Regions from separate parts of the Homo sapiens genome. Here region 1 is linked to region 2. Evidence: fine-mapped expression QTL. Tissue or cell type: whole blood. Region 2 holds a variant in brackets; the other region holds the start of a gene. All regions are shown on one strand. Distances are between the middles of the regions.

Region 1 (5,748 bases), 500 kb after region 2:
TGTAGAGACATGGTCTCGCTATGTTGCCCAGCCATCCTCCCACCTCGGCCTCCCAAAGTGCTGGGAGAACTGTTCACTACTATGATACCAGCATCTAGAATATGTGGTACATAATATGTATTTAATATATACTTATTAAGTAAAAATAGTATACACAGTTAAACTTCAAATGATGTTAGTGAACCAGCTAATTATGTGCCCAAACTGTTCTAAATACATGAATTAATTCATTTGACCAGCTTAAGAGGTTAGGTACTACTGTTATTATTTCTATTTTGCAGATGAAGAAATTAAGGTACAGGTTAAGGTTAGGAAATAAACAACATTAAGCAGTTTGCCCTACATCATACCATGGCAAAGCCAGGATTTGAACTCAGGCACTCTGACCCCAGAACCCAAACTCTAGTACACTGAAAGACTTGGTGAGCAACAGATTTCAATTACATTCCACACACAAAAAATAAATAAGAAAAAAAAACAAATTATATTCCACATAATCTGTATGCTAAGTTTATTTTACTATATGTCTCTGAAAACTGATAATCAATGTACTACTGATTCTTAAACCAAAATACTTCATTTCTTGATCTTTTTCCATTAATGTTTCTGATGAAATATGTGTAAAATACACATTTAACAACTCTCATACTTCTAAATGTAAACATAGTGTAAAACCGAGCAGCTGTTGCTATGAAAACCTTCACTTTTTTTTTTTTTTTTTTTTTTTTTTTTTGAGACGGAGTTTTGCCGTGACTCAGGCTGGAGTGCAGTGGTGCAATCTCGGCTCACTGCAAGCTCCACCTCCCAGGTTCAAGCAATTCTCCTGCCTCAGCTTCCTGAGTAGCTGGGGTTACAGGTGTGCACCACCACACCCAGCCAATTTTTATTTTTATTTTTTGAGATGGAATCTCGCTCTGTAGCCCAGACTGGAGTGCAGTGGCATGATCTCGGCTCACTGCAGCCTCTGCCTCCCAGGCTCAAGCAATTCTTCTGCCTCAGCCTCCTGAGTAGCTGGGATTACAGGCATGTGCCACCACGCCCAGCTAATTCTTATATTTTTAGTAGAGACAGGGTTTCACCATGTTGGCCAGGCTAGTCTCGAACTCCTGACCTCATGATCCGCCTGCCTCGGCCTCCCAAAGTGCTGGGATTACAGGCATGAGCCACGGCGCCCGGCCAAGAACCTTCACTTTTAAGTTTGCAGTATTAATGTTGAATTAACAGACTGGCATACTTATCTATGACACAGGTAATGAAGGAAAAAAAACACCTCAGTAGACTCAACAAGGATATCACAAGTAATGACTAGCAAGCAACATTTTTTGAAAAATAAAATGTAGGCATAATTTCAGGCACAAGAAATGCTAAACGAAATAGCTTACTTTTACCTTAAGACTTTCCCCAAATTATGTGATTTCATTCCTACAAGGACAAGAATCACAGCTTACTACCAGCCATGCAAATGTCATTTTAGGAGTACACACAAGTTTTACCCAGTATCTTAGTTCACATTTGTCCCAATTAATTAAGTCTATGTATAATTTAAAAGCGAAAACTAGATATGTCAATTTTGTTTTCCTTCTAACTAATCCAAAGTCAAAACTGTTCACTTTACCAAATGAATTAACTGAATACAGTTAATTAAATCTTTTATTTATAATTAAAAATTGGAACACACACTTTCTCACTTAATACCTATTATGTCCTGTTTCCCATACCTCTCTATAAAGTAGAAGTATTTGCTGGAAGACAATAATCTGCTCATTAAGTAGGCACTTAGAAAAAGCAACGATCTGCAACTACTGAAATTCTTATCTGTATATTTCTCTTTTGGGTTACAAGAAAGCACTTCTCTGGCTATTTTCCCAAATAAACTAGGCAAGCCTTGGGAAAGTCACTGCTTAAATCCCACTTTCTGACAGCTTCTCTTCCTCCATAAATGAATTATTGAGAGCCATGTCTACTTCCATCCATTACATAATACATGTCCATCATGGGACCTGTTTTCTGAACAAGAAATAGCTTAAATGACACTAACTGATAAGTAGGGCCAGAGAATACTGTAATCTAACAGGGAGCAAGAATCCAGAAAAGAAGATTCTGATTTACAGTGCTAAGTTGTGAAAGAGTGATGTGAAGAACATTGAACACTGCTTACTCTAATATTTCCATACAAAGTGACACACCTGCCCCCAAAATGTTTTTAAAGCACTTGACTCCAAGAACATTTCTCAGAAATTGAGGAGCCTACCAAAAAAAAAGAGTTCCATTTCATTTTAAAGTGTTTTAATAAAGACTGCAAGAAACATAACTGCAAATGAGAAATAAAATTTCAACAATTTAGCACTGAACACAAAATGTCTAAAAGTCAAGGTGTACTGAGCAAGCAACACGCTATAAAAGACGGTTGTACTTTAAAACATTTAAGCATTTTTCATATAATTAGCTCCAACAGAACTATTCCAATTGTTCACTTTATCCACCCAAAGCAGTCAACCACAACCACCTGCAACTATTATTCAGCAATGTGCCTTCCAAAGCAACCACCTGAGTTTGGGGCCTTCTCTCAAGGGGCCAGGATAAAGCCTGTAAAAGGGTGGTATAAAGAGATCTTTTAGGCATTGGGGGGAAAAAAAACTGGAAGACACCACCTTGAAGGAGCTAAGCGTAATGCGACCCAAATGGTGGCTGCCGGAACGAAGTTGTCTAAACCGAAGATCTCCCTCTTCTTCGGTGTAAAACTTTCAGATACATCCACGCTCACAATTTACCTGAGCCAAAGTAAGGGGATTCTCTTCCCTCTCCGACCCCCCACCCACCCCGCCAGAAGAAAAAGAATCGAACCCTAAAGTAGAAACGTGAGATCTAGTGCAATAAAATAGGTTCTGCAACTGCCTCAAAGGCAACATGCACAGCTCATCGTCCTTTTGAAATACACTTCATCTTTTATCTCACCATTTCATCGAAAAGAAAAGAATCATCTTCAGCATTTTACATCACTCACCTAACCCAAAGATCCACCCTGACCGCACCCCAACCTCATGGCTCCCCAATTTCTCCGTCTCCCCACTACCTCGTCCGCGGCTTCACTAGTCCTAAGCCTCCCCCCCTCCGCTCCCCAAGTGCCCAGAGCCCCAGTCCCCACTCCCCCACCTCCCGCCCCAGGATCCCCACATCTACCGCCTCGGCTCCCGCCCGATCCCGGAGCCCGGCTGGGTGGAGCCCGCGGGTGGGCGCCGGTGGTCTGGGTGGGGCCCGCCCCTCCCCACCCCCCGGGCTGCCGAGGAGGGGGAGGGGGTCGCGAAGCCTCACCTACAGCTCCGCCCCTCCCCGGGGGCGCGTTGCCCTGCCCAGCCCAGCCCGGGCCGTGAGCAAGAAGCTGGGTAGGAAAGGCGAAAGCCTCAGCACTAGCGACAGGGGGGAAGCTCTGGGTCCCGCGCGACTTCCGCGCTGTCGCCGCCGCCGCGGCCGTCTCACCGTCCTCAGGGCTGCCGCTACTGCTGCTGCTGCCGCCCAGGCACCGCCGCCGCCGCCACTACCGCCGCCGCCGCCGCCACAGCACGGCCCAGGCGCCCGCGACGTCACCGCGCCCCGCCCCCTGCGCGAGACACCTAGCCCCGCCCCCAGCCCCGCCGCGGGGCGCAGCGCGCCTCCCCGGGCTCCCGGCTCGGCTGCCTCCCTTTCCCTCAGCCTCCCGGGAGCGTGACGCGGCGGCCCGGGGGCCTCCGGGCGCCTTCCGGGGCACGCGGGTGAGGAACTGGGAAGCGGGGGAAATCGGCGCCACGGCGGTCGATTAGCACCGAAACAGAGTGATGGGCGCGGAGCGTCCCTGCACACACACACACACTCACACACACACACACACGACCCCTGCGGCCACGGGAGGGGAGAGCCGGGGTCGGCTCCGCGAGCGCAGGGTGGCGCTTGTCTCCTCCTGCTTGCCGTAGGAAGTGGACGCTGGAAGCCCGAGGAGCCGCTTCGTGTCTTCCCAAACCTAAGCGGCGCCCCACCCCCTACTTCTCGTGGCCCGTTACGCCCGGGGCAGCCAAGCGCCGCGGGAGCAGCGCCGGGATCGACCCTGGCTGCTGGGGGGACGCTTTGTCCCAAGAAAGCTGGTTTTTTGCCCCTTAGCTTCGTGGAACGCGGCCGCGAAATTAGTGGTCTTCTGACCTGAGACTCGCGGGGCTGCGCACACGGGCATCGCCGAGGACCCCAGCAATGGACGTCGTGTCTGTGGTGATCCCGCCAGGACGCGGGGAGCGTGGGCGGAAATTAGTGTCCACGTTCCGACCCTGCGCTGTGCCAAACGCTGCTTCGGGAGCTGTTTATTTAGCCTCCGACAGCTAAGCGAATCGGCGGGCGGCTGGGGCCTGGTGCAACCCGATTTTCTCGTGCAGACTCGCAGCCGGCTTTGGTTTTGTTTTTTGTTTTTTGTTTTTTTTTTGGAGCCATGCAGAGGGTAGCTACAGCCATTAATTTAAGGATGTAGATAAGCTATCTCTAAACCAAGAAAGTAAGAATGGTGTGAATTATATTTATTCCCAGCCTTCCAGTGTTTATTAAAATAATTTTCGGTGTCCTTGAGAGGAGTTAAAAGCCATCATTTTACTCCTGCTTACCTCCGCCACCGTAATTAACCACTTTATACTGCCTCATAATCCCATTAACAAATTGCAGTCGCTCCTCAGCCTTCACATTCATTCACTCACCAGTTTCTACTGTTTCATCCTGCCCGGACTCTTAACTGTTCCCTCCCAGGATCGACATGCACTTGGATCATTGCAGTTTCTGGGCCTGCTGTCATCTCCCCCTTCAGTACTTCCCACATATGACTACCAACTGTTAGACGATGTGCTGCTGCCAGACCAGCCTTTCATTTCTTGGACATCCGGCTATTTACCCAGGAAAAGTCATCCTTTGACTATTTTTCATGACCTTTCTCATCTGACTCGTGATCTGCCCATCTTGTTACTCCCTAGCAGTGTGGTAAGGTAAGAGAAAATTCAACTAGGAGTCAATAGATATTTCTGTTCTCATTCTCCCACTGTCTACTTGTGTGGCCTCAGGCAATTCATTCTACTTGTGGTCTTACTTAACTGTAAAGTGAGGTTTGAAGTAGGTGTCTGAGATACATCATGTCCTTAAAATATGTGGATCTGGAGAATTAAGTTGCTAAGCGCTATGTTATACACGGAAATACTGTCCTAACACAGATTCAGATTTTTGTTTTTTATTTTTTGCCACCACACTGGCAAAAAATATTATTTCCTGCCCTGCTCCAGTTATCTTTTTTAAAACCTACGTTTAGGATTTTTGATTAAAGCTAGCTAACCGAGCACATGTATTTACTGTCTCTTCTTCCTGAGACCCCATAAAATGATGATAAATAAAAGTGATACAAAATAGAAAATGAGAAGGGGGACATCGGAAGATAATTTTTTTTTATTTGACATGCAAAAAGTAAGTGTGGTCTGACAAAATAAAATGGAGAAAAGCATAATGTAGAATGGGTGTAGAGGGTGCTGTAGAAAGGAAGGGGACCTGTCAGCCCAGAAGTGCTTTAGGGAGACGGAGATTTGGAGATAACTACCAGACAGAGCAAGAGTGAGAAGCAGAGTTGAGACCAGGGAGACTAAATAAAGGTCTATATAAGGAAGAGCAGAACCCTCCCTATATCTCAGATACAATATCTAGGCATTTATCCAGGCTAAAATTAAGCACTCTGATAATCTGGGGAGATTTGGGTTA
Region 2 (5,748 bases):
AACCTGTGCAGTGCTCAGAACTGAAGCTGGCAGGTGGTCCACATGTCACTAGCTTTTATTATTTGTAGCCTGGAGTCTAGAACACAGGGAAGTACAAATTCTGAACGGAGCGCTACGGTGGCCCTTTGTGAATGCAGAGTGCTTGGATCTTCGGAGGAAGAGGCCTGTATGGGCAAGTACAGTTGAAGGATGTGAATATTTAACTGATTCAGGAAACATTCAAACACAAGAATAAGGAGAATGGACTTACAAACCCCATGCACGCAGTTCCCCAGCTTCATAATTACCGACCTCTGGCCCATCTTTTGTCTCCACGCCCTTGCTCCTCCCCGACAGACATGCTTGATTATTTTTAAGTGAATCGCAGATGTTAAGAAAGCAATTTATGCTCTGTAAAGAAAATTTCAAAAAGGAAAAAGATTATCCTACGGCACCTTCATTATGACCTAGGCTGGGGACAGGGATGAAGGAGGCATTCTTTCAGAGGTGAAGAAGAGGCTGGGAGGTCAAGCGGCAGCCCAGGGCTGCAGTCTGCGAGTCTGGGCCCTTTCCAGGACACCTGGGAAGGCTCACAAACCTCACACCAGCTTCCCCCCAGCCCCAGAGCCTATTTATTTTTTTTGAGACAGGGTTTCTCTCTGCACCTCTAGGCTGGAGTGCAGTGGTGTGATCACTGCAGCTCACTGCAGCCTCCATCTCCTGGGCTCAAGTCATCCTCTTGCCTCAGCCTCCAAAGCAGCTGGGACTATAGGCACATGCCACCATGCCCTGCTAAATTTTTAATTTATTGTAACGAGAGAGGTCTCACTATGTTGTCCAGGCTGGTCTCGAACTCCTCGCCTCAAGTGATCTTCCCACCTTGGCCTCCCAAAGTGTTGGGATTAAAGGTTTCAGCTACAGCACCCAGTCCCTAAGTAGCTCCTAATCATTTTTGAGCCAGCCTGAGATATTCCACCTCAAAAATAAAGTACTAGTTATCTTCTCTCAGTTCCGAAAAAAAATTAATGGATGGAATTCTTAAAAGTTTTCACATATTTTCTTTAAATCTATTGTCGGTGTCCACTTGCCTGCAACTGGGCACTGGTAGAATGCAGGGTGAATAAATAGTAAAAAAGATGAATGGGAAACCTTGGAAACAGCTGACCAGTGTAATCTGACAGCTTTCTGTGGACACATTTGCTTGTGGTTGTGATTTTATATTGTGCAGAATAATACATGCTCGGCTAGTAAAATTGTTCCTGCTTCATATGATGAAAGTACAAGCAACCTCAGCCCTGCAGCCGTGTCCACAGCGCCCTGTCTCCCGGGCACGTCTCCCCTGGCAGAGCTTCCCAACAGCTGCTGTGGCTGCAGAGAGCGAGGCCAGGGTGGGACCTGGGCACTGGGAGGGCCGACCGGGAAGAACGAGTTTGGACTCTCTTGCTACAATTCCCAAGAGCCAACACCCAGCGTGTGGCAGAATTTACACGGGAGAGGGAAGGAATGCAGCAAGCTGGCTTGATTCCTCTCTCGGGCAGACACAGAAGTGTGGCTAAGCAGAAAAGTAATTCTCATAAAAGAAATCCTCCAGAATAATTTCTTATTGAGCATAAAGCCCAAGACAAATCCCAAAGCTGGAAATGACAGCCGCGTCCAAGCACAGGGTTTCTCGGCTCCTTTTACTCTTGGCACACACACTTTCTGTTGACCCAGCCTGCACGCCCCAGAGTCAGTGCATCAGAACGCGCCCTGCTGAAGCTTGAGTCCCAGTCCTGGGCAAAGCCCTCCCTTGGTGGCCGCCCTTCTGGCTCTTCTACCTTGGTACAACAGCAGCACCATCCCTCAGCGCTGGGCACCTACTCTAAGCTCTGGAACAGTGAGACCTGATACGGATAACCTGGCCCGGGGCTGAGGGTAGAAAGAAGGAAAAAGGGAACCGGGAATTGACTTTAAAAGCTGCAAACCCGGAGATCAGGCGGGAAGGGAAAGGAGGCTCATGCCCGTCAGGGCTGTGATGACTCCCACACCCACCGTAAATCCTGGGACCCCTGGCCCTCGGGCTGCCTGCCATTGGAGTTGGCCTCTTGGGCACTGCAGACCTTGTCCATCTTTTCTAGCATTTGGGGACACACCTTGCCTGGATGATCAGCTGGGTGACACTCAAAGAAGGACACAGCACGGTTTTTAAATAACTTTATAATTTCCTGGTGGATTTAGTTTGTGAATAAAAAAGAAAAAATGAACAAAGTGTTTACAATAATTATCAAGGCAAAGTTGAATATAACACAATTTCTTTGTAATGTCATTATCCTGTCAGTAACACAACTCCAGCAGGAACACACACATACAGCTGAAGGCAGCGGGTGCACGTGCATCCCAGACACCACCATGGAGGCTGCTACTGTTACCAAAAGGAACTCAAGCTACAAGGGGGCAGGTGCTCCTCAGCTCCTCCACTAAAGTGCAACACTTCTCTTCTGACGCATCAGGGAGCAGTCACAGGCCCCACTGGATATCCTGCAATGCCCGGCAGGTGCCTGGGCTAGTCCTGCGATGGGCCAGCAGGCCAGAGTGGGTGGTGCTGCCCTCAGGATGTGTAGCTGCAGTAGATGGATGCAATACTGGCGTGGTGTGGAATGAGGGGCTGGACCCAGAGGGCCTGCTTTGGCCGGGGTGAATTCTCTGGCTTCAGTAGGGTTCACTTCCTTTCCTGACAGTGGCTTCTCTGGGGTCAAGAGAGAGCCTGGGCCTAGGAGATCTAGGGTCTAAAAAAGCTCAAAGGGAAATAATTGAGGGCCTGAAGCCAGAAGGAACTGACATGGAGGACAGTCTGTTCCACCTGGATTGCAGGCTCCAGGCTGGCCAGTGCTCACCCGTGCTGGGTGGTCACTGGAAGAGATAGCACCAAGTGGGCAGGAGAGGTCCTGTGGCCTGCCAGGCAGGGGCTTCAGGGTCAAGCCCAGGTTACCATGCAGTATTAGGCACACTGAGCTAGAACCCACGTCGGGTGAGGGTGGTTATGGGGTCACAAACTGTGAAACCTCTACCCAGAGGTCCTGAACATGTATAGGAAAATCCTGGCACAACTGCGAGGCTCTGAGCCCCAGATTCTCGTTCCTTTTGCTCGGCAGGTGTCTCTTGCCCAGGCAGGCACTACCCTAAGTGTGCTCCATGCTTCCTAAGCCGCCAGCCCAGGGCCACCTATGCCA[G/A]CCTGGGAGGAGGGGAGTGTGGCTGCCCCATAGCTTGAATTCCTTTATTAACAAGATATTGGTTTGCATTTTTAAAACACAGCTGTTTAATTTTTCATTTCTACAACTACGTTTTAATCTTTTAATAATCTCAACAACAGACACAATGTAACTGCCCCAATTCTCTGAATCACACAGACAATATCGACAAGCAGAGAAAGAAGAGAGGAGGTGGGATGGGACAAAAACCCGCTCCCCCAAATCAATCCCTAAAACCACTTCTCCCCCAAGAGTCAGGAGAAGTACCTACAACAGGGCCACAGCACTTGCCAAACACATTGGAAAAAATCAGGAGACAGTTGGTTACATTTTTGACACTAAAAAGTCTGGAGACGGTTTTTGCTGAAGAGTAGGTGAAGATAGCCATTTTGTTCAGAAGGATTTCCCTGTAATGTATGTCTTTTCTTGCAAGAAGAGTAGGTGAAGACAGCCATTTTGTTCAGAAGGATTTCCCTGTAATGTATGTCTTTTCTTGCCTAATTCTTCCCTAATTTGCATGGGGGAAACTCCAGATCCTCTTTAAGACATTCCTTTGAGTGGTTCACGTCCCCTCCTGAGCAGCCCAGGGCTGGCAGTGATGGACGGGCGGCCTCACTCTGCAGAGGGTGCCTGCTGCATTGCAGTCTCTTCTCATCCTTCCTCCTCAGTTCCGAACCCAGGCAGGTGAAGAGGAGGCCAGGAGCAGATGTTAAATTACTGGTATTTGCTGACACAGGGTCCGCTGGGCTTGAGAAATGCCATGTGGTGTCACACTCCACGCAGCGGTCTTCTCTGCTTGGCTCTTTCCTCAAAGACTCTGAGGGTCTTGACACCGGGCCTACACTCAAGTAACATGGTCAACAGGAGGGCGGGATGGTTCTGGGAGGAACAGGACTCTGGCAGCAAATCCAAATGCCAGTGGATGGGCGGCTCAGAAACATTTATATTTTGGGGTGACACATGATGGTTGCCTCACAACCCTGACCCTCAATAGCGGAGGGATTAGTTCAGCAGGTGGCTAAGACCGTGTCTGTGATGACTTCGCCTTCCTCTTCTCTCACTCTGGGGGTGGGTGAGCCCGCAAGTTCCTCATGGAAAACCAGACTTCAATGGACAGAAATTGAGGGGCAAGTCACAATGCCCTTCTTGACACTGAAGGCGGCCTTGGGTCCAGTCTGCTTTACAAGTTATTTCTAAAACCCAAGTGTGAGGAAGTCTGAGAGCCACAGGTAGATCTTTAGATTGTAAAGTGCAAGGACAAAGGTTAAAAGGTTAGAGCTGAGATGAATTTGGTGATTCCCATCCATATATATATATATATATATATATATATATTTTTTTTTTTTTTTTTTAAATGGAGTCTCTGTCACCCAGGCTGGAGTGCAGTGACACGATCTCGGCTCACCGCAGCCTCTGCCTCCCAGGCTCAAGCGATTCTCCTGCCTCCTGAGTAGCTGGGATTACAGGCGTACGCCACCACGCCTGGCTAATTTTGTATTTTTAGTAGAGTCGGGGTTTTTGCCATCTTGGCCAGGCTGGCCTCGAACTCCTGATCTCAGGTGATCCGCCTGCCTCAGCCTTCCAGAGTTCTGGGATTACAGGCGTGAGCCACTGTGGCCGGCCCCATCCATATTTCTTAAACATGTTAAAGCCCGTTCAAAATTTTTCCATTTCAAATGGTATCAAAGTCCTTGCAAATCTCAATTGAGATACCTCATCAATGATTCAATGAGTACCGGGGGTTAGAGGTATATGAAAAGATGAGAAGCTCACACTGGGCTTCTTCAGTTACAAAACCCCGTTGGGATCACACCCACTCTTCTTCGTGCCCTCTTTATGGTGACATTGGTTTGGGGTGCAGATCTTTAGGTGCTAAAGGGCAACTAGACTTGCCGATGGAGGGGTTTGGGGAAAATTAAGGGCAACCTGCACTGAGTTTTCAAGGCTATATAACTTCAGTAGCAGTTGTATGCCCATATGAAACCATGACCACTAGGAGAGGGGCATGGAATGACAAGTCCTAGTGTGATGGGAGTGGGACATTTGGTTAAGTGTTGGTTCAATGATCTAGACTCAATGAGACACTCTGAAAGCTACAAACTGCATCCACTCTGCCCTACAGCACGAAGGCCACGTTTATTACTGAACTCCTAGCCAGCCTCCAGTGCCCAAGAACGGTCAAGAAGATTCCTTGCTGTTCACAGAGACCAGACAGATGATATCGGTCCCGGAAATGCTTCTTCTCAGAAGCAGTGTCACAGAGGGCTTCCTTCCATCCGTTTTTCTGGAGGGGAAGTGATGGAGAATGCTGAGATGAAGAGGAGAGTGACACACCCAGTGGCTGAGAGTGGCAGGCGCTGCACCTGATGAGAAAGTCCACGTGGGTGGGATCTGGGCCACCTGCTTGGAGAGAGCAGCTGGCCAGTGCCCGTGCCAGACCACTTGTTTAGGCATGGCCTCGCCTGCTGTCTTGGTTCCACCGTGGCCCCGTGAAGGCTGTTATCACACCGCAGTTCTTTACGTTATGGTGGATAAAGCGAGA

What was found. PIP is the estimated chance that this variant, and not a neighbour inherited with it, causes the effect.
Region 1: ERC1 starts here. The variant in region 2 is fine-mapped to the expression of ERC1 in whole blood (INTERVAL, PIP above 0.99).

The regions. Positions count from the first base shown.
Region 1 is chr12:989,052-994,799 of GRCh38, reverse strand. It overlaps ERC1 (ELKS/RAB6-interacting/CAST family member 1), which reads right to left and starts at 3,577. Exons shown (of 19, transcript NM_178040.4): 1 at 3,478-3,577. It also overlaps a transcript of RAD52 not described here. RefSeq lists silencers at 2,763-3,057, 3,263-3,772, 3,793-3,902, 4,313-4,362 and enhancers at 3,061-3,622, 4,184-4,746.
Region 2 is chr12:1,492,342-1,498,089 of GRCh38, reverse strand. It overlaps ERC1 (ELKS/RAB6-interacting/CAST family member 1), which reads right to left. Exons shown (of 19, transcript NM_178040.4): 19 at 2,159-5,748. Among named protein-coding and RNA genes, the nearest start is that of LINC00942, 5.3 kb to the left of the region's middle. The variant G/A (reference allele first, on the strand shown) is at 3,189.